3 separate regions of the Homo sapiens genome follow, and regions 1 and 2 are each linked to region 3. The links come from fine-mapping of genetic effects on gene expression. A gene starts in region 3. Each other region holds a variant in brackets. All regions are shown on one strand. Distances are between the middles of the regions. Region 1 overlaps SLC12A6 (solute carrier family 12 member 6). Region 2 overlaps EMC4 (ER membrane protein complex subunit 4). Region 3 holds the start of SLC12A6 (solute carrier family 12 member 6).

Evidence for each region. PIP is the estimated chance that this variant, and not a neighbour inherited with it, causes the effect.
Region 1: its variant is fine-mapped to the expression of SLC12A6 in whole blood (TOPMed, PIP above 0.99).
Region 2: its variant is fine-mapped to the expression of SLC12A6 in whole blood (INTERVAL, PIP 0.99).

What each region holds. Positions count from the first base shown.
Region 1 is chr15:34,299,335-34,307,744 of GRCh38, reverse strand. All of the region lies in intron 2 of SLC12A6 (solute carrier family 12 member 6), which reads left to right. Among named protein-coding and RNA genes, the nearest start is that of SLC12A6, 34 kb to the left of the region's middle. The variant A/C (reference allele first, on the strand shown) is at 3,487.
Region 2 is chr15:34,227,950-34,236,278 of GRCh38, reverse strand. EMC4 (ER membrane protein complex subunit 4) reads right to left here. Exons shown (of 5, transcript NM_016454.4): 4 at 7,690-7,850; 5 at 6,123-6,526. The coding sequence ends at 6,491. It overlaps SLC12A6 (solute carrier family 12 member 6), which reads left to right. Exons shown (of 26, transcript NM_001365088.1): 24 at 80-264; 25 at 965-1,098; 26 at 2,307-6,495. The coding sequence ends at 2,398. Among named protein-coding and RNA genes, the nearest start is that of EMC4, 7.1 kb to the right of the region's middle. The variant C/G (reference allele first, on the strand shown) is at 4,244.
Region 3 is chr15:34,332,775-34,341,041 of GRCh38, reverse strand. It overlaps SLC12A6 (solute carrier family 12 member 6), which reads left to right and starts at 3,261. Exons shown (of 26, transcript NM_001365088.1): 1 at 3,261-3,710; 2 at 4,290-4,632. The coding sequence starts at 4,362. RefSeq lists a silencer at 2,847-3,406 and enhancers at 4,696-4,815, 5,017-5,086, 5,147-5,196, 6,824-6,873.

The sequences.
Region 1 (8,410 bases), 33 kb after region 3:
GCCTACAGTAAAAAAAATTACATATACCCACATTCAGTTTCATTACTTCAAGACCAAGTTCATACTTATTTCCTCCAAGATGACTTTCCTAATCTTCTACTCCAACTTTGATTATATCATTAATTGGTATTAATGGGTGGACATGGTGACTCATGCCTATAATCCCAACACTTTGAGAGATGGAGGCTGTAGACCAGGAGTTTGAGACCAGCCTGAGAACATAGTGAGACCTCATCTTCAATTTTAAAAATAAAAGAAAAATGTAAAAAACAAAGAAAAATAATTGGTATTTATCAGCAGTCAAATATTCTTGCAGTAACACTGTAATTATATTTTATCTCTTCACCTGTATTGAGGGTGAGACATAGTGTTTTAATATTTTTCTGAAAATTACATATTTTATTTTTTATTGTGGAAATTTCAAATTCGGAAAAGTTTAGTGAACTTCCTGTTCATGTCTGTTACCTGTAGGTATTCTTCTTTATTTTTTAGATATGCTTTATATTTAGGGATGTCAATCCCTTTGGGAAATAAATTCCAAATGTTTTTCCCCATCGGTATTTTTTTATCGAGGTGCAGTTGACATAAAGTTAACTGTACATCTTTAAGGTGTATATTTTGTTGATGAATTTTGACATTTATATGCCCATGAAATAATTATAATGAAGATAGTGAACATTTTCGTCACCCCCAGAAGTTTCTTTGTGCCCTTTATGCCCCACTCACCTAATTCCTTGGTCCCTAGGCAACCACTGTTCTCTTTTTCTGTCACCAAATTAGTTTGCATTTCCTAGAATTTTATATAAATGTAATCATACAGTATGTACTCCTTTTGGTCTGACTGCTTTTATATAACAATTATTTTCAGAGTCCATCTAATCAGTTTCCTTTAATTTTGACTTCCATTAAGATCTTCCTTATTTCTTAAATTTTTTCTTCAGAACTTAATACTTAGGGCAGTAGTTGAAAACAATGCAGTCCACAGATGTTTGGACTTTACAGTGGCACTTTAAATTTTTGACTTACATGCCAAGATTTTAATGCTTTTAGGATTAGTCTGTAAACAGGACTGACTTTTCAGAGTGAGTTCTGGGAAGGTGGCTACTTGAATATCTCACTATCCCTCCATTCCTGCTTCCAGCCTGTATCTGTCAATCTTGAGTGAAGTGGCTCCTGGATCTGATGAACAGTTGGTGCAATTGAGGCCATGGGCTGTGTGAGAACTCTGTCAGGGAGAGTTGGTACAGGACTTTTCCTCTAGACAAGAGCCTGGAAAATCTCAGGATAAGCATAAGAATGGCAAATCCAGGAAAGAACTTGGTTTGGTAGATATCCATGAATTCCTGGAGGGAAGGAGAAAAGGAAAGAGCCATGGGTCTGAGATCTTCCCATCCCTGTGGCTGGCATATGTAAGGAGACCTGAGAGCAGGGAGGCTTCCTCCTGGGCCTCCACAAGGGCTGGTGGCTTGCCTGCTGCAGCACTGCCTACCCACAGGGGTAGAGACTGCTTTGCCTTTCCATTTTCTTGAGACTGCTACCGCTTGTGGTCCTCCAACAACTAAATCTCATCCCCCATGAGGTGACAAAGATAAACAACCCATCTGGGGAAGCCAGGCAACCTGAAAGAGAAAAACCACTTAGAATAAACAATATATTGAGTTAGCTAAATAGAAATGCTGGAGGAGGCTGGGCACGGTGGCTCACGCCTGTAATCCCAGCACTTTGGTAGGCCGAGGCGGGCGGATCACGAGGTCAGGAGATCGAGACCATCCTGGCTAACATGGGGAAACCCCATCTCTACTAAAAAAAGATACAAAAAATTAGCCGGGCGCGGTGGTGGGCGCCTGTAGTCCCAGTTACTCAGGAGGTTGAAGCAGGAGAATCACTTGAACCCAGGAGGCAGAGGTTGCAGTGAGCCGAGATCGCGCCACTCCCTTTAGCCTGGGTGACAGAGCGAGACTCCATCTTTAAAAAAAAAAAAAAAATGCTGGAGGAGAGAGAAACTTGAACATGAAAATAATAATGGGCCACATTTAAGACTTTATGGAACAAAAAATGTGATTTTTCCACCTAAATAATTATTATCACCTGACTCCATTTATCCTCACACACTTATTTTTTTTAAAACTATCTCTGCTAGAGTGTAAGCACCAGGAGAACAGGAACTTTTTTGTCTTGTATTCACTGCTAATCTGTTGTCAACTCTAATACCTAGAACACTGTCTTACACATAGTAGGCGCCCGAAACATAATTATTGAATAAAGGAATGAATGAGTATGAACAATTATTGACCTGGAAGATCAAGTAAAATAAATATTTCAAAGCATGGAGCCAAAAAAAAAATACAAAAAAAAAAAACTTTTAAAAAAGAGACCTATTGGATCGATTCAGGACACCTAACATGGCTAATACAAGTTCCAGAAGAAGAAAAAGGAACAAATGGAGAAGGAATAATTAAACAACATAAAATTATTTCCTGAGCTAAAGACTTCAGTGTGCAGAATGAAGTTCTGGGGGAGATCAGTGATGAAAAACACATACATAGGGATATCCTTGTAAAATTTTTGAGCTCCAAGGATTCACCTTGGAGGCTTCCAGATAGAACAGGTTGCACCTATCAAGTAACAGACTGGAATCAGAATTCTAATTCACAACACTGGAAACTAGGAGATGGTAGAAGAGTATTTACAGATTGGGGATTTCACAATCCCAAATCCCTATTTCCCTTGAAGATATTTCTCCCCTATGAGGGGAAACATGTTACAACTATACAAAAATTTCAAGGATATAATACCCACTTAACTCCTCTGAGAAAATTCAAGAAGGGGTTTTAGCCAAATAACAAGTGACCTAGAACAGAGATCACATGATGAAAGGGATAGAAATAATGGAAAATGACAGACTCTTTGGGAATGTATTATGTAAATGCTAAGTAAGGTTTTTAACCAAAGGATGCATAGTTCAGAGAACAATAATATTTACAATGTGATAAGTAAGTCAGGGCAGAACCTCAAAACTGTGGGAACAAAAGGAAGTAACAGCTTTCCAATTAAGGTGAGGAGAGGAAAAAGCACCAATATGTACATGAAAAGATGCTCAACATCATTAGTTATTAAAGAAATACACATCAAAACCAAAATGAGGTACAGTTTTTTCACACTCACTGGGATGGCTATAAACAAAAAGACAGATATCAAGTGTTGGAAAGGATGTGAAGTATTGAAACTCTCATCTGCTACTAGTGACAATGTAAAATAGTACAACTACTTTGGAAAACAATTTGACAGTTTCTTAAAAAGTTAAACATAGAATTACCATATGTCCCAGTAATTAAGTGTATTTCCACACAAAAACTTGTACAGGAATGTTTATAGCAGCATTATAAATAATAGCTAATAAAGAAGTAACAGCCCAAATGTCCTCCAGCTGACAAATGAATAGATAAAATGTGATATAGCCATATAATGGAATATTATTTGGCAATA[A/C]AAACAAAGTACTGATTCCTGCTATAACATGTGTGAAGCTTGAAAATGCAAGTTAAGGAATCTAGTTGCAAAAAACCCCAAACACATACTGTATGATTCCATTCGTAGGAAATGTCCAGAATAGGTAAATTTATAGAGGCAGAAGTTAGATTAATGGTCGTTTAGTCTGGATAGGGTTGGGGAGAGTGAGATGGGGATTAGCCTGCTGATGGGTAGAGGGTTTCTTTTAGTGGGGAGACAAAAATGTAAAATTAGATTGTGGTGACAGCTACACAACAGTGTGACTATATTAAGAAACACTGAACACTTTGAGTGAATTATATGGTGTTGTCTTAGTATGTTTCATGCTGCTATAACAATACCACAGACTGGGTAATTTATAATGAATTGAAATTTATTGACTCGTGGTTCTGGAGGCTGGAAAGTCCAAGACCAAGGTGCCAGCATCTGCTGAGGGCCTTCTTGCTGCATCTTCCCATGGCAGAGGGCAGAGAGGGTAAGAGGGAGTGAGAGAGAAGGGGACCAAACTCCCTATTTTGTTACAAACTCTCTTGATAATGACATTAATCCATTGTTGAGGGTGGCTTAATTACCTAATGGCCTAATTACCTCTAATTAGTCCCCCACCTCCCAGTGATGTTGCATTGGGGATTAAGTTTCCAACAGATGCTTTTGGGAGGATATATTCAAACCATGGCAGGTCTGTAGTTTATGTTTCAAAATGTATTTTTTTTAAAGAGGAACTAGTGTTGATAATACACAGCAGCTTGCATGAATCTGCAAGGCATTAGGCTCAATGAAAAAAAGGCAGTCTCAAAAGTTTATATATGATTCCATTTATATTTTCTAAATTATTGAAGATCATGACACATTTACTATTCAAAGTATACACACTAAAAACAATGTTTTTAAAAAATTCCAGAATACAGTATATATAATAATAGTTTCTAGTTTAATGTCTGGGTTTAAAACTTTAGGAAATGTTATGTTCAGCCTACATTAAGCAGTTAACCTTTGACTGTAACATGAAATCAATATAGGCTCTTAAAATATTGGAAATGTTCACAGTAGTCTCTTAGTCCCCCTAATTCCCCTTTTAACTCCTTAGTTCCTAATTTGTTGTTTAGGCCAATTTTCTCCCCTTCTTGTTAAGAAGATAGTCTCTTATGGTCATGTTTATTTTTCCAAAACCATCTTTAAAATGAAAATGTGAAATATGTTTCCACAGTGCATGAAAAATAATTTGGATCATCCACAAGACCAAAGAATGACATAATCTTTTTTTTTTTTTTTTTTTTTTTGAGACAGGGTCTCCCTTCTCCCGTCTGTCACCCAGGCTGAAGTGCAGTGTCATGATTATGGCTCATTGCAGCCTCAGCCTCCTGGGCTCAAGCAATCCTCTCACCTCAGCCTCCCAAGTAGCTGGGACTATAGACATCCACTACTACGCCAGGCTAATTTTTAATTTTTTTGTAGAGACAAATCTCCCTGTGTTGCCCAGGCTGGTCTTGAACTCCTAGGCCCAAGCAATCATCCCACCTCCACCTCCGGAAGTGCCAAGATTATAGGCATGAGCCACTGTGTCACCCAGGCTGGAGTGCAGTGGCACAATCTCAGCTTACTGCAACCTCCGCCTCCTGGGTTCAAGCAATTCTTTTACCTCAGCCTCCCGAGTAGCTGGGATTACAGGCTCCCGCCACCACACCTGGCTAATTTTTGTATTTTTGTAGAAATGGGGTTTCACCATGTTGGACAGGCTGGTCTCAAACTCCTGACCTCAAGTGATCCACCCGCCTCGGCCTCCCAAAGTGTCAGGATTGCAGGCATGAGCCACCACACCTGGCTAGCCCATAATCTTCTTTATACATAATTTTCTTCAGTAATATTTGCAACAGCCTCAAGATCCATCCTCCTTTGTTATTTCTTAGTAAGTTTTTTTTCTTCTTTTTTAACTGTGTAGGTACAGTCCTCTTGTATCATTTATACTTTTCTTGACTGACCAGTTTGTGGATTTGGCCCAATAAACTCTCTTTATATTATACTTTGGCCTTTATTAAATCTACTGTCTGGTATTACTCTCACCATCTTCTCAGTGTTATAGGCTGAGAAGAAAATTACAACCATAGGTTGTATAAGTTATAGGCTGTGAATTAGAAGTATAACTATCTTCATCACTGCTGAGTTCTTCAACTTCTAGTGGATTTATCTCCACATATTTGGAAGAATTTCAACACAACTTAATCTAATGTATTCAGAACACAGTTTACCTCATTTGCATTTTCTTTATACAAATCTGAGCTCAAACAAAAAGTGGTCTTAACATTTCTCTTGCTTGGGACACTCCACTAAATAGCACTGGTTTGCTTAAGAGCCTCTGTTAATCTAATACTTATTCTTAGCATATGTACTGGATTTTGAAGGACATTGTTGATGAGTACCCAGTATTAGTGGCAGATCTGCAGGCTGGTCTCGAACTCCTGACCTCAGGTGATCCGCCCACCTTGGCCTCCCAAAGCACTGGGATTACAGGCGTGAGCCACCACGCCCAGCCTTGTCTGGCTGTCTTTTCTTTAAAATAAGTCAGATGGATCAAAGAGACGATTGCTAAGTAAATTCACATACAATTTCTTCAGGATTCATGTGTTGTGTGTTCTGCTCCATAGGCATGTTTGGCCCTACATTTTCACTACTTTCTACCTTAATTACCATTTTCTTCCTTCTAGTATCTAGACTTGTTGGGAAAAATTGGAATGACAGCATTACAGTCATAGTGTCAATAATTTTTTTCCCTCTGTTTCCTTCTCTAGCATTCTGAGCCCTTGGTCTCAGGTGCTTTCTCTTTCCATTGGCTTTTAGGAAAGTTCATCCTTCTGTCTTCAGCTCTTATGTTTTGATGAGGACTTTGTTTCTTTGTTTCCATCATCAGCCTTTATTAAAACTAATCCTGAATTTTGGTCTCTTGGTATTTGTCTTTGAAATCACTTCAACATGAGTCAGTTAACAAACATGTTGAGGCCGGGCCTGGTGGCTCACACCTGTAATCCCTGACCTCACCTGAGGTCAGGAGTTCAAGACCAGCCTGACCGACATGGTGAAACCCTGTCTCTACTAAAAAAGACAAAATTAGCCAGGTGTGGTGGTGCATGCCTCTAATCCCAGCTATTCAGGAGGCTGAGACAGGAGAATCGCTTGAACCTGGGAGGCGGAGGTTGCAGTGAGCCGAGATCGCGCCATTGCACTCCAGCCTGGACAACAAGAGTGAAACTCCTTCTCAAAAAAACAAAAATGTTGAACATTTTATAAATGTTACATGAAGCTCTGTCTGTATTACATGAAGTTGTAATTGTCACAGCAACGTTAAAACAAAATTCTTGTCTCAAAATGCTTATAATGGGCAGATAGGACCCCTGCCCCTCATGCCCCCAAACCTGCTCCTCTCATTCTTTTTTTTTTTTTTTTTTTTTTGAGACGGAGTCACTCTGTCTCCCAGGCCAGAGTGCAGTGGTGCGTCTCAGCTCACTCACTGCAATGTCTGTCTCCCAGGTTCAGGCAGTCCTCGTGCCTCAGCCTCCCAAGTAGCTGGGACTACAGGCACACACCACCATGACTGGCTAATTAAAAACTTTTGGGTGTGTGTGGAGACAGAGTCTTCTATGTTTTCCAGCCTGGTCTGGGCTCAAGTGATCCTCTTGCCTCAGCCTCCCAAAGTGCTGGGATTACAGACATGAGCCACTGTGCCTAGCCACCTCCTTTCATTCTTAATCCTGGCAGCTGTGTTATGGCTAGGGGTAGGGGAGTAGGGGAATCTCACAGCCATGAAAACTGATACCACCATAAATTCATCATTTCCAACAATGTTGTACTGTCGACACTATTTAGACATTCTGTGTGATTCTAGTTAGCTTCCCTTCTCAATCCTTACAGAGTTAAAATGCTTAAGACCTCAATCCTCCATTCTCATATAGCTAAACCTTCTACTTCACAGAGTAAACTGTATTTCTTTATTTCTAATATTCTTCTTCATAAGTTCTTACCAGCATCTGTGTTGACACCTATCCTTTACCACCTTCCTTGTTGTCGTTCAATATTGATCCATACACCTGTGCTCTAGAACCTTTCTTGCTTCCTAACTCTTGTGATTTCTAATTTTTTTATTGACTCCTTCCCCCTTGATATATTACAATATTCAATCTCTCTGTCACTCTTTCCTTTTCTTTCTCGCCGATTTTTGCTCATTTAGTCTTCCAAATAATTCTCAAATTTGTCCCGTTCTCTCCATCTTCACTGCTACTATCCTAGTCCATTGTTATTTTTTGTCTAACCTCCTAAAGCCATCCATTACAGTAATTACCAGAGGAATTTTTCTCATATGTAAATCTCATCCTATTACTCCCTCATTTAAAACCCCCTAATGTCTCCCCATGCTGACAAAGTCTGTACTGCTTAGCAGGTACATGTACCTACACGATCTAGAACATCCCAGCTTAATAGCTTCCTTGTTTATTACTCTTTTGTACATACTGCACACCAGATATAATGAATGTTCTTGAATGTCTCTGTTGCTTTAACACATTTATTCCATCCTCTTGGAGTGTTCTTCAGTTACCTAGCAAACAATCTTCATGTTAAGACTGAGCTCAAATACCACTTCTTCCTTAATGGTCCCTGTGATCACTCCAGGAAATGTAATGTAATGTACACGCTACCATACTCTATGTCTACACCTCCAATATAGTACTTTAGTCACCCACTGCAATCACTTGTCTTACCCGTATGTGCTGTAAGCCCCTTAGGGGTAGCTGCTGTGCTCTATTCATCTTTATGCATCTCCAGTGCCTAGCACATAATCTGACATTTATAGATGCTTAGTAAATATTTGTTGAATTAATATGTTGATTAATTAAAAGATAATACAAGGCAGCTT
Region 2 (8,329 bases), 100 kb after region 3:
ATTACTGCTTCAAAATAACCAAAGATGAAGCATAAGAGAAAATTTGGTAGAATAACTTGTGTTGGACCTTCTTCCTCAGGCACAATTGGTGAAAGACCGAAACTCAATGCTACGATTGACCAGCATTGGCTCTGATGAGGACGAAGAGACAGAAACCTATCAGGAGAAGGTGCACATGACTTGGACAAAAGACAAGTACATGGCATCCCGGGGACAAAAAGCGAAGTCAATGGAAGGATTCCAGGACCTGCTTAACATGCGTCCGTAAGTTTTCCCACTCCCAAGTTTATCATAAAATTACCTAATCAGTGGCACAAATGTGACTTTGCCTGGACACACAGGATGGAGTCTGTTCATTTCACCCTGAATCTAGCCACCTCATTATTGTTTGCCTGTTCATACTGGCTCCCAATGAACACTGTACACAAGCTAACCATCCCCTCTATCCACATAGTTCACCTCCATACTGTGTTCTTACTATAAAATAAGCCAACAGAGAATGAGAAAACCCAGATATTAATATCATAAAGAAACCATTTTAGCCTGGGCACAGTGGCTCACGCCTGTAATCCCAGCACTTTGGGAGGCAGAGGCGGGTGGATCACCTGAGGTCAGGAGTTCGAGACCAGCCTGCCCAACATGGTGAAACCCTGTTTTTACTAAAAATACAAAAAAAATTAGCCGGGTATGGTGGTGGGGGCCTGTAATCCCAGCTACTCGGGAGGCTGAGGCAGGAGAATCACTTGAACCTGGGAGGCGGAGGTTGCTGTGAGCTGAGATTGTACCATTGCACTCCAGCCTGGGTGACATGAGCGAAACTCCCTCTCAAAAAAAAAAAAAAAAAAAATCATTTTATCAGATTATCCATAGTCAAGTGAAAAAGCTCAGGATCTCAAGTTTTTAACGTTGACTTTATGGCTAGTTGTCTTTTTACCTTAACAACCTTTATTTCTTCCCCACTCAGGGACCAGTCCAATGTGAGGCGGATGCATACAGCAGTGAAACTCAACGAGGTTATAGTTAACAAGTCCCATGAAGCAAAGCTGGTTTTATTGAATATGCCAGGGCCACCCCGAAACCCTGAGGGTGATGAAAACTGTATCCTTTCCAAGAGTGGGGCTTCCAGTAGGGAAAATCTCCTTAACCTCTTTCTGAGATAACTAGGTAACAATAAAAGTCATTGTCTATGCCCCACTTTCCCTCTTTAAGGAAGGGAGACTTAAAAGTCCTAGGCAAGGATTTTTACAAAGTTATAAGATTAAACTCTTTTAGGGGAGTTGGGGCAAATATAATTCAGTTCTAGTTTTAGGTGGTGTATTTGCAACATGACATCTAATATTCAGTGTATAAAACCCTTCCTGACAATCCTACAGACAGCATACCCACATCCTTTCGCCTTTTTAGGTTCTACCCGCTTTGCAAAGCCTTTCTTTTGGATAGAGTTAGGGGAGAAGCTGAGATAGAACCTCCTTTAACTGAGGGGAAAAAAGAGATAGGGATTCTTCCTCATACCTTCATCCCAGGACTCCTGGGATACGGGAAACCCTTCAGCATTGACACATAAATTAGCTTATTCCCACCAGTACCATTAAGAAAGAAGAGGTTTAGGCCAGGTGTGGTGGCTCATGCCTGTAATCCCAGCACTTTGGGAGGCTAAGGCAGGTGGATCACCTGAGGTCAGGAGTTCGAGACCAGCCTGGCCAACATGGTGAAACCCCGTCTCCACTAAAAATAGAAAAGTTAGCTGGGTGTGGTAGCAGGTGCCTGTAATCCCAGCTACTCGGGAGGCTGAGGCAGGAGAATCACTTGAACCAGGAGGTGGAGGTTGCAGTGAGCCAAGATCGCACCATTGCACTCCAGCCTGGGCAACAAGAGGAAATTCTGTCTCAAAAAAAAAAGAAAGAAAAGAAAAAGGTTTAAAAAGAAAAAGACAAACCGAACTGGCAGAAAAATCTGACTTGAGCAGCTTCACTTAGAAATTACTTGGGTTCTCTCTAGGAATCTTGTTAGCTGCCCTATTGTGGCTTTTCTTCTTCTTTCATCATTTTTATCTTATTTAGAGTAACACTTCTAGGTTTTCCCATTTTTTAAATACACAAATGGGAGTCTGGTATTATGTATGCAAAAGGACTGGATCTCTGGTTACTTCACAGGGTTAAATTCAATCCAAAGTTCAGACTTTTCTGAATATATAATAATTAAGCAGCTAATTTTGTAGCTCTATGATCAGATAACCTCAGATTATGATGATGCCAGGTTTTAAGTTTGTGCTCTTCTTTTGCCTGTCTCCTTGACAAGTTTTGAAGACATGGAGTTCCTAGAGGTGCTTACCGAGGGACTAGAGCGAGTCCTACTTGTCCGGGGTGGTGGCAGTGAAGTGATCACCATTTATTCATAACCTACTCTGAATGACCGTGCTTGACCTGTTTTCTTAAAAGGCCTACGTCCTCCATGGAAGTGCCAGCTCATTACTACCACTCCCACTCAACTAGAAGCCTGTGTTCTGTACACATCATACTGAACTCTTGATGAGCTGAGCCTCAAGTACCTGTGTAAAAGAGCTCCCATCTGATCTGCAGTCATTACAGAAAAAGCAAATATTCCCTCAACATCAGAACAATGCTCAAGTCTTTCAAGCCACGTCTGAGCAGTCAAAGGCAAATTAGAATTAACAAGCTGAGCCAATAAATGAATTGGTAAAAGGGATGCTAGAAATTCAACTGAAGAAAAAAAGCAAGTCAAGTACGTATTCAGCATTAAAGATGAATCTCAGAAGTCATGGTTCAATGTTGACACTGTGAGGATAACAACTAGAGACAGCTTCATCTTACTAAAGAATTTATGGTCAAGTATATTTGGACCTATTATCCTCGGCAAGCCAAGATGCAAACATTTTTTAGCTATATTTCTTTAGTATACCCACTGCTGTAATTTTATATTAGGATACTAACTTGAAACATGGCTGCAGCCTCTACTTCTTCAAAAACATCCCCCCAAAATACCAGATTTAAATATCCAAATACTGTGTCAGTGTATACTTCAACTGTTTTGTTTCTCTTAACTCAAAACCCATTCTGTCATTGTAACACAGGCAGTGTTACCATGGAAATTGTTTTTGGTAAGGTAAAAATTATTTCTTTCAGGTTCCTTTCAAATGGCCGAACTAAGAGAACTCCAAAAGGAAGCTATTAACATTTACTGAAATAGTCTGTGGTTCTCTATACAACATGGACAAAACATACAAGCTGTTGTCTAAGAAATGCAGGTCATGGTGCACATTAATCAACAGGTTCTTCTCCCCCCGCCCCCACCCCCGCGCCTTTTTTTATGCCCTCTTATTAAGCACAGGTCAAAAAATCTTAAGGAACAAATACTAGGAAAACTGGCTAAACATCCTTCCCTGAAAGCACTGGACCATCTTTTAAAGGGCACATCTAGCAATGGAATTGGAAGTTCTAGAGCCACACTCTTTCTTTAGTGCCAACGTTACTGAGCGGCTACTCTCCTTACCTACTTTACTAAAATGGCATACAGATTGGCATTGACCTGTTGAAGAAATTTTACCACTAAGAAATCTTTTGCCTCATCTACAAAGCCATAGTTAAGACTTGAGGCATTCAACTTAATGCCAAGTATAAGCATTTCCCCCTTTTTCTTTCAATTTTATTCTTCATTCTGACTACAGAAACTTGGCCCTGAACTACGAGATTAGCCAAGCCAACAGTCTTCTAATTTGTTTTCAGAAACTTCAGGCCGGGTGCCGTGGCTCACACCTGTAATCCCAGCACTTTGGGAGGCCAAGGCAGGTGAATCACTTGAGGTCAGGAGTTCGAGACCATCCTGGCCAACATGGTGAAAACCTGTCTATACTAAAAATACAAAAATTAGCTGGGCATGGTGGTGCATGCCTGTGATCCCAGCAACACGGAAGGCTAAGGCAGGAGGATCATTTGAACCCAGGAGGCGGAGGTTGCAGTGAGCCAGGATTGCACCTCTGCACTCCAGCCTGGGTAACAGAGTGATATGTTTCAAAAAGAAAGTTCAGTGTGCCAAGGAAATACTTGTGTAAGCTCAGCTTTTTATTTACTAATATACTGATCAAACATCTGGCTTACAAGCATAGGGAAACTACTTATGTGGCTGGCTGAGCAGTAATTTCAAGTATGTGAAATCTTCATTTCTTTTACAGAATAGTTATTTAGAGAAACTTTTCTTGCCTGTATTCATGGCTGTTTTTGAATTT[C/G]AATTTATTAGTCATAAATAGTGCCACTCTTCTTTGATTACTAAATAGGACATGGAGCAAGCTGACCTAGGTGTCACAAATTATTCATTTGACCTGTAAGGACAGAGAAAACCCTTCAATATAGCTTAAGAAATTGAGTAATTTTGGGCCGGGTGCAGTGACTCACGCCTGTAATCCCAGCACTTTGGGAGGCCGAGGCAGGCGGATCACGAGGTCAGGAGATTTGAGACCATCCTGGCTAACACGGTGAAACCCTGTCTCTACAAAAATACAAAAAAATTAGTCGGGCATGGTGGCGGGCGCCTGTAGTCCCAGCTACTTGGGAGGCTGAGGCGGGAGAATGGCGTGAACCCGGGAGGTGGAACTTGCAGTGAACCGAGATTGCACCACTGCACTCCAGCCTGGGCGACAGAGGGAGACTCCATCTCAAAAAAAAAAAAAAAGAAAGAAAGAAAGAAATTGAGTAATTTTGATTTGTTCCCTTTGCTTGCTTCAACCTCCAGGCCCACTGAGGATGGCAAAGCGGATAGGATCTTAAGTCTTTTTTTCTGTTACTTCCTACAGATGGTAGAAGCATTATTTACAACTCCCACTGCAACACTCCATTGCTTAGTTGAGTTTAACAGTAGTGAGTCATGTCCTGCAGGATCCAGTATCTTTTTTTTTTTTTTCCGAGACGTAGTTTCGCTCTTGTTGCCCAGGCTGGAGTGAAATGGCACAATCTTGGCTCACCGCAACCTCTGCCTCCTGGGTTCAAGCGATTCTCCTGCCTCAGCCTCCCGAGTAGCTGGAATTACAAGCATGTGCCACCACACCCAGCTAATTTTGTATTTTCAGTAGAGACGGGGTTTCTCTACTGAAACTGATGTTGGTCAGGCTGGTCTCGAACTCCCAACCTCAGGTGATCCGCCCGCCTTGGCCTCCCAAAGTGCTGGGATTACAGGCGTGAGCCACTGTGCCCAACCAGGATCCAGTATCTTAAAGGCCCATACTGTAAAGGTCAGCCTGCCTAGGAATTCTGCCACATTTACACACACCCCTGGCCAAAGTAATATTTTTTTTTTCCATGTAGAACAAATTATGGGCAGAAAGTAAAGTTAGTTTTAGAAGTGCTGTTTGTGGTTGGAGAATTGTAAAAATCTTTTAAAGGGATAAGGGAATTAGTGGCTTTTAATATAACCACTGCTTCAGCCCGAAACACAAAATCACTGTTACATGGAAAACTGGTTATTAGGCCAGATTTATATTCATGTCTGTCTAGAGTATTTCATGTGTGTATGTGTTGCTTACGTTGTCTGTCTCCAAAGTCTCTCATCTCTTTTAATCACTGCAAATAAAGCAATACTGAAAACTTGAGAGAATGCACCTTAGGGGAAGGGGCTATTTCAAGACAGAAAACAAAGGAAATACCTGCCTTTTGAATAAGATCCCGCTTTTGAGTCTTACCTATGACTTTACCAGGGTAGATTAGAAATACACATCCTCCTGCTGACCCTCTGCCTTCAATAGCTATCTATCTTAAAAGCTGAAGTTTGAACTGCAGCATCTGCTTGACAGGTGCCAGGTTCCTTCGGCAGGGGGACGATCACTCTATATATCTTCCGTTGCCTCAGATTCCTGTGGCCCAAGGATCCCACCAATCCTCGTTCCCCCTAAACATGCTAACAAAAATCCCTTATCGTGGGTATTAAAATAATAACAGTTACACTGTATGCATATTTATGTGCTCCTTTTGTCTGGTTTTTCTTTTCATCATGTATAAGCTGAATTCAGCATTAGTTTCTCACATCTTCCCCCAGGTATCCCCAACAGAATTTTTATGTCCCAGCTTGTATTAAATAGAAGTGAAATATTAAGGAAAATAAGGAACTTGTGCAACTTTTTTTATGCATTGTTCTCAACCATTTAATTTATTGAAAGGAGATGCTGCAACAGTTCTTGATTTAGCAGCAGTTATTCTCTTGTTTACATAGTTATGTTTTTTTGTTGTTGTTTTGCTCTGTACTGGAAACAAAAATAAAGTTTTCTACATTATTTTCAGCCTTGGGTTATGGTATAGTTTCTTTGTGTTTGTCGTAATATGCACATTGTCCTTCTAGGACCTGTCACCCCACCATGGAGAAAAGAGTCTTTTGGTTCTTTTTAACATAAGTGATTAGTTTAAGAGTATGCTGAGGAGCCACTGGGCTTAAAGAAGGATGTAAATAAGACCCAAATACATAGGGACCAGGCGCTGCTTTCTCATGTTCACAAAAGCAGTCCTCCACCACTGAACTCCATTCTCTGAAAGAAGAAAGAAAGAATAAATAGGTGAGTGGCAAATGAGTGTTAAAATAACTTCCTGAATCAATTACTTAATACTTTAACCACAAGCTCTATTTTGCCTATCCTTAAAAAAGAACTTCCAGGCCAGGCGCAGTAGCTAATCTTAGCTAAACACTTTGGGAGGCCAAGGCAGGCAGATCGCTTGAGCCCAGGAGTTCAAGACCAGCCTGGGCAACATGGCAAAACCCTGTCTCTACAAGAAATACAAAAATTAGCGAGCCATTGGGGTGCACACCTGTAGTCCCAGCTACTTGAGAGGCTGAGTGCCTGAGCCCGGAGGTTGAGGCTGCAGTGAGCCATGATCACATGACTGCACTCCAGCCTGGGTGACAGAGCAAGACCCTGTTTCAAAAATAATAACTTGGCCAGGCATGGTGGCTCACACCTGTAATCCCAGCACTTTGGGAGGCCGAGGTGGGTGGATCACCTGAGGTCAGGAGCTGAAGACCAGCCTGGCCAACATGGTGAAACCCTGTCTCTACTAAAAATACAAAAATTAGCCAGGTGCAGTGGCAGTTGCCTGTAATTCCAGCTACTAGGGAGGCTCAGGCACAAGAATCGCTTGAACCTGGGGGGCGGAGGTTGCAGTGAGCCAAGATCACACCACTGTACTCCAGCCTGGGCGACAGAGTGAGACTCTGTCTCAAAATAAATAAATTAATTAATTAATTAAAAATAATAACTTAAAAACTCCTAATGGCTCTTATTTTTTAAGAAACCCTAGGCCAGGCGCAGTGGCTCACGCCTGTAATCCTAGCACTTTGGGAGGCAGAGGTGGGCAGGTCACTTGAGGTCAGGAGTTCAAAACCAGCCTGGCCAACATGGTGAAACCCCATCTCTACTAAAAGATACAAAAAAATTAGCTGGGCATGGTGGCAGGTGCCTGTAATCCCAGCTACTTGGAAGGCTGAGGCAGAATAATTGCTTGAACCCAGGAGGCGGAGGTTGCCGAGATCATGCCACTGCACTCCAGCCTGGGCGACAGAGCAATACTCCGTCTCAAAAAAAAAAAAAAAAAAAAAAAGAAACTCAAATACCAACTCCAATTTCCTACCATCAAGTAGGTCAGCTATTCACTGTATACTACAACTACCCAAAATTCAGCTTTTCTTTTGCCTTACCTCAGGGGGCTCAATGAAGGCTAACCAATCCGATGCATGTGTAGGTAACAGTCCCATGGACTGGCACTTGTAAACAGCCAATGCCAAACCCATCAGGTTCCCAATGAGATAGACCAAACCCTGAAGAAACTTCTGGCTTGAACTTTCTAACATCTTGAAAGCTGTTGCGGTAACAGAAGTTGTCAAACCAAAAGAACTCTTTCCCCCAATACGAATCAAGCCAACTGTATATTAAATTCATATAGACAGACCCATAGTAAGACAGCAAATAGGACCATTAAAGGCAAACAGAAAACCATGGTAAGCACTACACTCCCCTCCATGCCACCACCATTACCCCACTCCCCTATATACCTGTTAGCCAAAAACTGTCCCTAAGAATTTACCTTTAATTCTTCCTTTTTTTTGAGATGGAGTCTCGTTCTGTCACCCAGGCTGGAGTGCAGTGGCACGATCTCGGCTCACTGCAACCTCTGCCTCCCAGGTTCAAGTGATTCTCCTGTCTCAGCCTCCCAAGCAGCTGGGATTACAGGCGTGTGCCACCACGCCCAGCTAATTTTTGCATTTTTAGTAGAGACAAGGTTTCACCATGTTGGCCAGGCTGGTCTCGAACTCCTGCCCTCAGATGATCCACCCAGCT
Region 3 (8,267 bases):
CTCACCTCAAGTGATCCACCCACCTCAGCCTCCCAAAGTGCTGGGATTACAGGCATGAGTCACCACACCTGGCCTGGGTCTTTCTTTTTTTTTGAGATGGAGTTTTGCTCTTGTACCCCAGGCTGGAGTGCAGTGGCGCCATCTTGGTTCACTGCAACCTCCGCCTCCTGGGTTCAAGCTATTCTCCTGCCTCAGCCTCCCGAGTAGCTAGGACTACAGGCGCACACCACCATGCCTGGCTAATTTTTGTATTTTTAGTAGAAACAAGGTTTCACCTTGTTGGTCAGGCTGATCTCAAACTCCTGACCTCAAGTAATCCGCCCGCCTCAGCCTCCCAAAGTGCTGGGATTACGGGCATGAGCCACCTTGGCCGGCCTAGTGCTGCAGATTTTAAAATTGCTTTGTGGAGTCTGTATTTTAATTCTGCAATCTTTATTTTCTATGATAAAAATTCTAGATTCCAGAAGCAGATATAACTTAAATTAGCACAGATGTGATTTATGAAGACATACCCTGGAAATACTTTTTTTTTTTTTTTGAGTCAGGTCTCACTCCTGTGGTCCAGGCAGGAGTGCAGTGATGTGATCACAACTCATTGCAGCCTCTACCTCCCTGTCTCAAGCGGTCCACCCCATTTTTAAATTTTTTATAGAAACGAGGTCTCACTATGTTGCCCAAGCTGGTGTTGCACTCCGGGCTCAAGCTGTCCTCCTGCCTTGGCCTCCCAAAGTGTTGGGATTACGGGCGTGAGCCACAGTGCCCGGCCAGACTTTGCTTTTCTTGGATCTTGCTATTTGACCATCCCAGCAGAAAAGTTCAGGATAGTTGTGGGTTGCTGAAAAGAAAAAAAAAAGTCTCTCAACTGGAGTCATAATTAATAGAAGACAGATGATTTTGAAATACATTACTGAAACATATAGGAATGGTGAAATGAGATACTTGTTTCCTGTCAAGGAATTTTATTTCTTAGCCTGTTCACTTACTTGCAGGGTTCTTAACATTGGATCTGAAGGATTTTAAAGAGTTAACTTAGAGAAATTGTGAAATGGGATACTTGTTTCCTGTCAAGCAATTTTATTTCTTAGCTTGTTCACTTACAGGATTGGATATAACATTGGATCTGAAAGATTTTTAAAAGTTATCTTATCCAATTAAGGGGATAATGATTGGAGACATGTTTCTTAAGCACCAAAGTCAGTAAGTGAATTTTGCTACCAGTTTTTTAATGTTGGCTGCAGTTCTGCCTTTATCTTACAAAAAAGAAAAAAAAAAAAGAATTAGCATTGCTCCATGCTACCACCTGTGTAGACTTAAAAGCTTTAACCTGAAAATATTCCTAATGAATATAGAGGAGAGAAAGCAAACTGGCATGAATATAAAAAGGACTTTTTCCATAAGAGATCCCCTGAGGAATGAGGCTTCATTTTGCACCAGAGGCTGTGTCTCCCTGAGAAAATAAAGAGATCCCTGGGGTATTAACGTCTGAGACATACATTTATAGAGCTTGGTTAGTGCTCAGAAACAAGAAAAGTCTTAACAGGGATAGTATATTGGAATTAGGTGGTACATATAAGTAAATGCAGATACACTGGTAGGAAATTGGGTTTCATAAAAATTCTGTGTTTCTTTATAAAGGAAAAGTCTGAAGTTTGAATGAACGGCAGGCCTGCCTGAGGAAAAAATTGATCCTGCTGAGGATGGATGAAAGCTGTGGGCCTGAATCAAGAAACCCAGACTTTATAAAGAGTCAAACTTTAGGAGGTTTACACTTTACATTAGGATTTCTCATTTTGTTACCAGGATCTTTTTAACCTTTTTGATCCTTTAATCCTTGAAAGGATTTGGACTTTGTGTGTCATTTGATAAAAGAGAACTTCCGGGAATACAGTTCCCATTGCTAGGAGTGCTGCTTAAACATAACCACTTGTGAGGAGCCAAGACCCCAGGCAAAACCGGGGGCCAGTTTCTGGGCCCAGGTGATTGTTAAATTTAGAGGTCTTGATCACAGCTATAGGAAATAGCTTTTCAAACAAAACATTGGTGAGTCAGAATTTATCGAACACCACCATTTATACATTAAATAAACACTAAGAAAAAATATTCTAGCGACAAATGTAGTGGTGAAAACATGGAATGGATTTGAGAAAATACATCAACGTCTTCTCCAGGTATAAAAAAACGTATTATTTAGTGGAACTTTCAGTCTGACTAGAAAGTGGACATAGCATTTATTAAAAGGACAAGAACAACAACAAAAAATTAAAGTAGGACAAATGTGTTTAAGGTACTTTATAGTTTTATTTTTATTTATTTATTTCTTTGAGACGGAGTTTTGCTCTTGTCCCCCCAGGCTGGAATGCAATGGTGCGTTCTCGGCTCACTGCAACCTCCGCCTCCCAAGCTCAAGCGATTCTCCTGCCTCAGTCTAAGGAATAGCTGGGATTACAGGCACACGCCACCACGCCCGGCTAATTTTTGAATTTTTGGTAGAGACGGGGTTTCGCTATGCTGGCCAGGCTGGTCTGGAACTCCTGAGCTCAGGTGATCGATCACGCCCGCCTCAGCCTCCCAAAGTGCTAGGATTACAGTCGTGAACCACCGCGCCAGGCCTACTTTATAGTTTTAATTTTTTTTTTTTACATAAAAGTGGTTTATTTGTATGTAGACCTCTACATAAAAATTACAATGAGGGTTATTCCCAGGTATAGGAGCGGTGTTTCTGGTTAAAGAAATCATGAATGATGTTTTCAGAGACACTCATGAAAGAGAAATGGCTCCCCGGGTTCTGAGGGTGAGGAGCAGCGCCCGCCCTCTAGGATGCTTCCAGAGTGAGTGTGCAGCACAGCCGGACCGAGGAAAAGGATTATTCCCCTCTTCACGCGGGTCGGGCCGTGCCCTGGACTACAGCTCCCGTCGTGCCCCTGGCCACTCGTATTCGGCCCCGCCCCGCCTGCCGTGTCCCGCGGCGAGCGCAGGCGCGCTGCACTCGGTCACCGCGGGCTGCGGCGGCTGGGCGGGGCTTTCGGGCGCCCGCGGGACGGTTCCGCCCTCTCACTGCACCCCCGGGCTTCTCTTCGCAAGGTTCACCTCGAATGAGGAACAAGCGGGGAGGGAAGGGAAGGGCTGCGGCGGCGCGGGCGCACCCCGTCGGGCCCGGGGCTGGGGGAGGCCAGGTCACGTAACTGCTGCTCTGGCGTCGGGCCGGGGAGGGGGCGCCAGCCCCGGCAGCGCGAACCCTGCGCGCGCCGCGGCTCTGAAACAGTTACCGGCTAGTAAACAACAGCTGCGCGCGCACCCGCATCAGCTGGCGCCGGGATACTGCACCTGCGACCTCCTTCTCCCTCACCCTGCTGCCCAGTCAGGCCAGCCTGCGTGGCCGTCTCCTCCTCTACTGGGACCCTGAGGAAGAACGACGAGGGGGTGACCTGCGCCGGGGCGGGGGTAGGGGAGAACGCGCCTCCGGCAAAGGGGGTGGCTCGTCCTGTCACACGCAGGAGAAACCTAGCGAGCGGACCGTGGCTCAGTGGACTAGCTACGACTTGCCACGACTCTGAGCTGCAGTCCGAGGTGTCTTGATCCGCTAACCTCCTCCCAGACCCCGAGGACCTTTCTGCTAGGAGAAGAGCGGGCGCGCCACCCCCACCGACCTCTCGGAGACAGGAATCCGCTCTGCCCCTGCATCCTCCTCTGCTCACCCTTCTCTCAGTAGTGTGGGTTATTTTTCCCGTTATGCATGTGCACCTTTCCCACCAGACCCAAGTGGATTGTCGACATCAAAAACACCGGGTGGCTTTGCATACACCTCCCCCCAGCCAGACCTGTGGGGTATTCACCTGATACACAACAGGTGGCCGGGTGTACACCTTTTAGCAATCTGATCCACGCTATAGTCGCCTGATAAAGGTTTGCCTGCACGCACTTCGCCCAACTAGAACCGTGGGACACTCACCAGATAAAGGACTACCTCGACAGGAAACTGGGGGCTGAGGGGAGGGAGGCTTCATCTGCTGCCCTGAGACCATGGCACTGAGCCTTCAGCCCCGGACCAGAGGGGTTAGCTAGGTAGCTCTTCATTCTGAAGGAAAGAAGTCACACAAGATTGGCATTGTTTTGTCTTTTTGTTTTTTGTTTTTTTCTCTCTTAAAAAATATATTCACCTATTGGTGATGCACTTTCTAGGACAGTCGGCTTGAATTCTGAGTAGAAGTATTCTTAGTTGGGGCTTTTTGTGTGGTGTGAATCAAGGTTATTGAAATGTGTTATTTTTCAAGTTATCTTTTGTATTGCAGTCAAAAGTAGCTAGCGTAAGAGGAAGATTTTGCGAGGTTCCCCCCACTTTTTTTGTTCTTAAAAAGAACAAAATGCATCCTCCAGAAACCACCACCAAGATGGCTTCAGTTCGGTTCATGGTGACACCGACAAAGATCGATGACATTCCAGGTTTGTCAGACACCAGTCCGGACCTCAGCTCTCGATCTAGTTCCCGAGTAAGATTTAGCTCCCGGGAAAGCGTGCCTGAAACAAGCCGGAGTGAGCCTATGAGTGAGATGTCTGGGGCCACCACTTCGCTGGCAACTGTTGCACTGGATCCACCCAGTGACCGGACTTCTCACCCCCAGGATGTCATCGAGGGTAAGTAGAAACACAGACCGCAGCATACTTTCATTACTGGGTTCTTTATCCAAGATGACCATCTATGGATCTGGAAGATCATAATCATATAATTATGATTATAATAGTCATCAGGAACCAAGGCATCTCTTTGTGAGATGCTTAGGAACTCTTTGGAATAATAGCATAGTGGCTCTTTGCAGTAGTAATTTGGTATGTGGGAAGGTGTATGACAAGAAGGAAGGCAAATGTATATTTTAACTTCCTCATTTTTGTCTTCTTAGAAATGAAATGGGTATTTTGGTTAAAAGTGAATATCAAAGAATGTAATCGTTTTCAGCACACAGAATCCTAAATTTTAAAATTTAGTGAGTTGGATATGTGTTCTGTAGCCATCATTGGCTATTTCAGTCTGCTTTAAGACTGGTTTCATGGAGTAGTTACTGGTCGTATCTTAGCAGCTTTCCTCCAAGACTTCGAATGTGTATTGCAAAATTCTTTTTTGAAATCTGTATTTTTATGGAGACCTTGACACAAGTAGCTAAGCCCACTCAGGGTGATGGTGGGTAGACCTAATGTGCTATTCTGTCAAATGGAAGACTTCTGAAAAGGCTTTTAGGGCCTGATTCCCATGTAATTTATTCTCTCTGAGCTTTAGATGGAAAGTCTGATGATTAGAGTTAGCAGGTAGCACACAAGCCACTCCTGGCTCATGTTGACTGCTACAGACCTTTAGCTTCCTAAACCAGTTTGTGTGTGTCAGCTGGCTTGGTTTTATTTGAGGTACTGGGAAGAGGTGATGGAAGAGAGAGAAGAGAGAAAATGGGGAGATCATAACATTTTTTGGACTCTGAAATTTAAAAGTTTGAGACCTGTACTGCTTTATATATTTAGTTTTATGCTGTGTTGTAACTAATGTAATCTTTTAATGATAAAAATTTCCCTTAAAGACTCTTAAAATAATATTCCACCCAAGTTTGAAAACCATAGCCTCACCCACTGACTTGTGAAAGCAAGGCTTACTCACCATTTTCCGGTGTCAGGAAATATTGTTCCTTTTAACCTAAAGGGTTCAGGAAACCAGAATGATTTTAGTTCCCTAATTCTGTTTGTGTTTTTAGTATCTGGAGACAAGGTAGATTTGGTAAAGTTTACAGTCCTAGAATTCACTCATCCTTGACTAATCATTTTTTCTTTTATGGAGACATAGGTTGGTTCTCAGACTTTACTGTTTTCAACTTTTTGACAAATTTTACAGTGTGTCATACACTGGATTAAAATTACAGTATGGAATACAAATTTATCATTTCCTCTTCCTCCAAATTAATTCCAAATTGTGGTTTTAGTTTTTATCCATCATGCTGTATTTAGGTTGTAAAAATTCCAGGTAAAGACTATACCAGTGTTAATTTCTTAATATTGTAATTATCATTAGGTAATTTATAGTTTAGTTTGTTAGACTTGTGACTTACATGTTACAGAATTGTATTTTTATTCTTTGGAAAAGTGGACTTAGTAATGTGTTAGACCAGCAGAACAGGTTCCTTGTCCAGTCTGCGGTTCTTACGTTACCCTTAAGCATTCTTTACAGTCTAAAGTGGTATCCTTTTACACTATAGGGGTAAAAATGGGACTACAGGGGTAAAAATGGGGACATATCTAAGTGAAATTTATGTTTGTTTACGTGGTTACAGATGTTAAAAGCTTGGTTCTCTATATAACACATTCCTTACTTAATGTTTAAATATTCTCCGGTACCCAGATGAAAGGGAAATTAATAGTCTGGCCATTAGAGAGGACTTTGCCCTATTCTCGTGGAACTTTATACTTTCTCAGTGACCTACCTTTTCTCTTTTTTTTTCTTTCTATATTTAAAAAAATTCTTATGATGACTGTCATCATGTGATAAATTTTCCCCACCATTAGAAGAAACCACTTAGAAACACAATTATTTCACCCTTGACTTCTCAGTATGTGAAAGCCCTTGTTAGATTTAGATGTAGATCTTCAAAGGGTGCTGTTGTGAAGAAAAGGGCCTAATGTTAATATACACTTCCCTCTAGGCTGGCTTTAATATAGATAACAACTGCATCCTTTCTACAGTTGACTCTCCTTAAGCTCATAGTGCATTTCACAGTTAGTTTGCTATTTTAGTATTTACAGTTCTCTGAATTTTTTCACCCTTTGTACATCCTTCTGTGGTTGTGACATTAGTATGATTCTCCTTTCCCCCATGCCTCCCACGTTTCTTCCTGTAGAGAAACTTCCCACCCGAAGTTTCTTGTCATATGTCTTCTACTCACATTACATCACACAAACAGGAGGTGACACATGAAGTTTTTTTTGTTTTTTTTTTTTTTGAGATGGAGTTTCACACTTGTTGCCCAGGCTGGGGTACAAGGGCGCAATCTCCACTCACTGCAATCTCTGTCTCCCGGGTTCCAGTGATTCTTTTGCCTCAGCCTCCCAAGTAGCTGAGATTACAGGCATGCACCACCACACCTGGCTAATTTTTTGTATTTAGTAGAGATGGGGTTTCATCATGTTAGTCAACCTGGTCTCAAACTCCTGACCTCAGGAGATACACCCACCTTGGCCTCCCAAAGTGCTGGGATTACAGGCGTGAGCCACAGCGCCCAGCCCTACATGAAGTTTTAAATACTTATTTCAGTATATTTTAATTTTTTCTGCTGTTGGCTTTCTGAGTAGTTTTCTTTCTGCTATCAAAGTAATTTTTCTTTCATTTTGGCAAGGCTCCATTTGAATTTATAGGACTGTCCAGTTGGTAAAATCAAGAATCTTAGCAGTGTATTAGCTTATGTATGAAGAACGCCTTAAAGATACAAAAGAAACTGTTGAGAGTGGATGCCTCTGGAAAGTGAGTTACAAAAATAGAGTGGAGCCAGGCACGGTGGCTCACGCCTGTAATCCTAGCACTTTGGGAGGCCGAGGCGGGTGGATTCCCTGAGCTCAGGAGTCCGAGACCAGCCTGGGGAACACGGTGAAACCCTGTCTCTACTAAAAATACAAAAAATTAGCCAGGCGTGACGGCGTGCGCCTGTAATCCCAGCTGCTCGGGAGGCCTTGACAGGAGAATTGCTTGAATCCAGGAGGCGGAGGTTGCAGTGAGCTGAGATCACGCCGCTGCACTCCAGCCTGGGTGACAGAGCGAGACTCTGTCTCAAAAAAAAAAAAAAAGAAAAAGAAAAAAAAATAGAGTGGAATTTTCTTTTACCAAAACAATTAAGGGCATATACAACTTTTAAGTATTTATAGTGTATCACTTTTATAGTAATTTTTTTGAAAAGCACCACATGTTAGAGCTAATGATCTAGAATCTTATTCTGATCAAACCACATTTTAATAAGTGAGGAGACTTAAAACCCCAATAGATTAGACTAAAAAAATAACAAAATAAATGAGGAAACTAAGGCTTATAGAGATGGTTATTTGTAGATCACAAAGTGGCAAAGCCAAGACTGAAGTTCAGGCCTCCTGACTTTTATCTAGTGCTCTTTCTTGCATCATTTTGCCTCTGCTATGATGAACATTTTTTACATGTGCTTTATAACCATGTGGCTATAAAACATATTTTTATATGTCATTTGCAGGACCTAATACTTTTTTTCTTTTTCTTTTTTTTTTTTTGAGGCAAA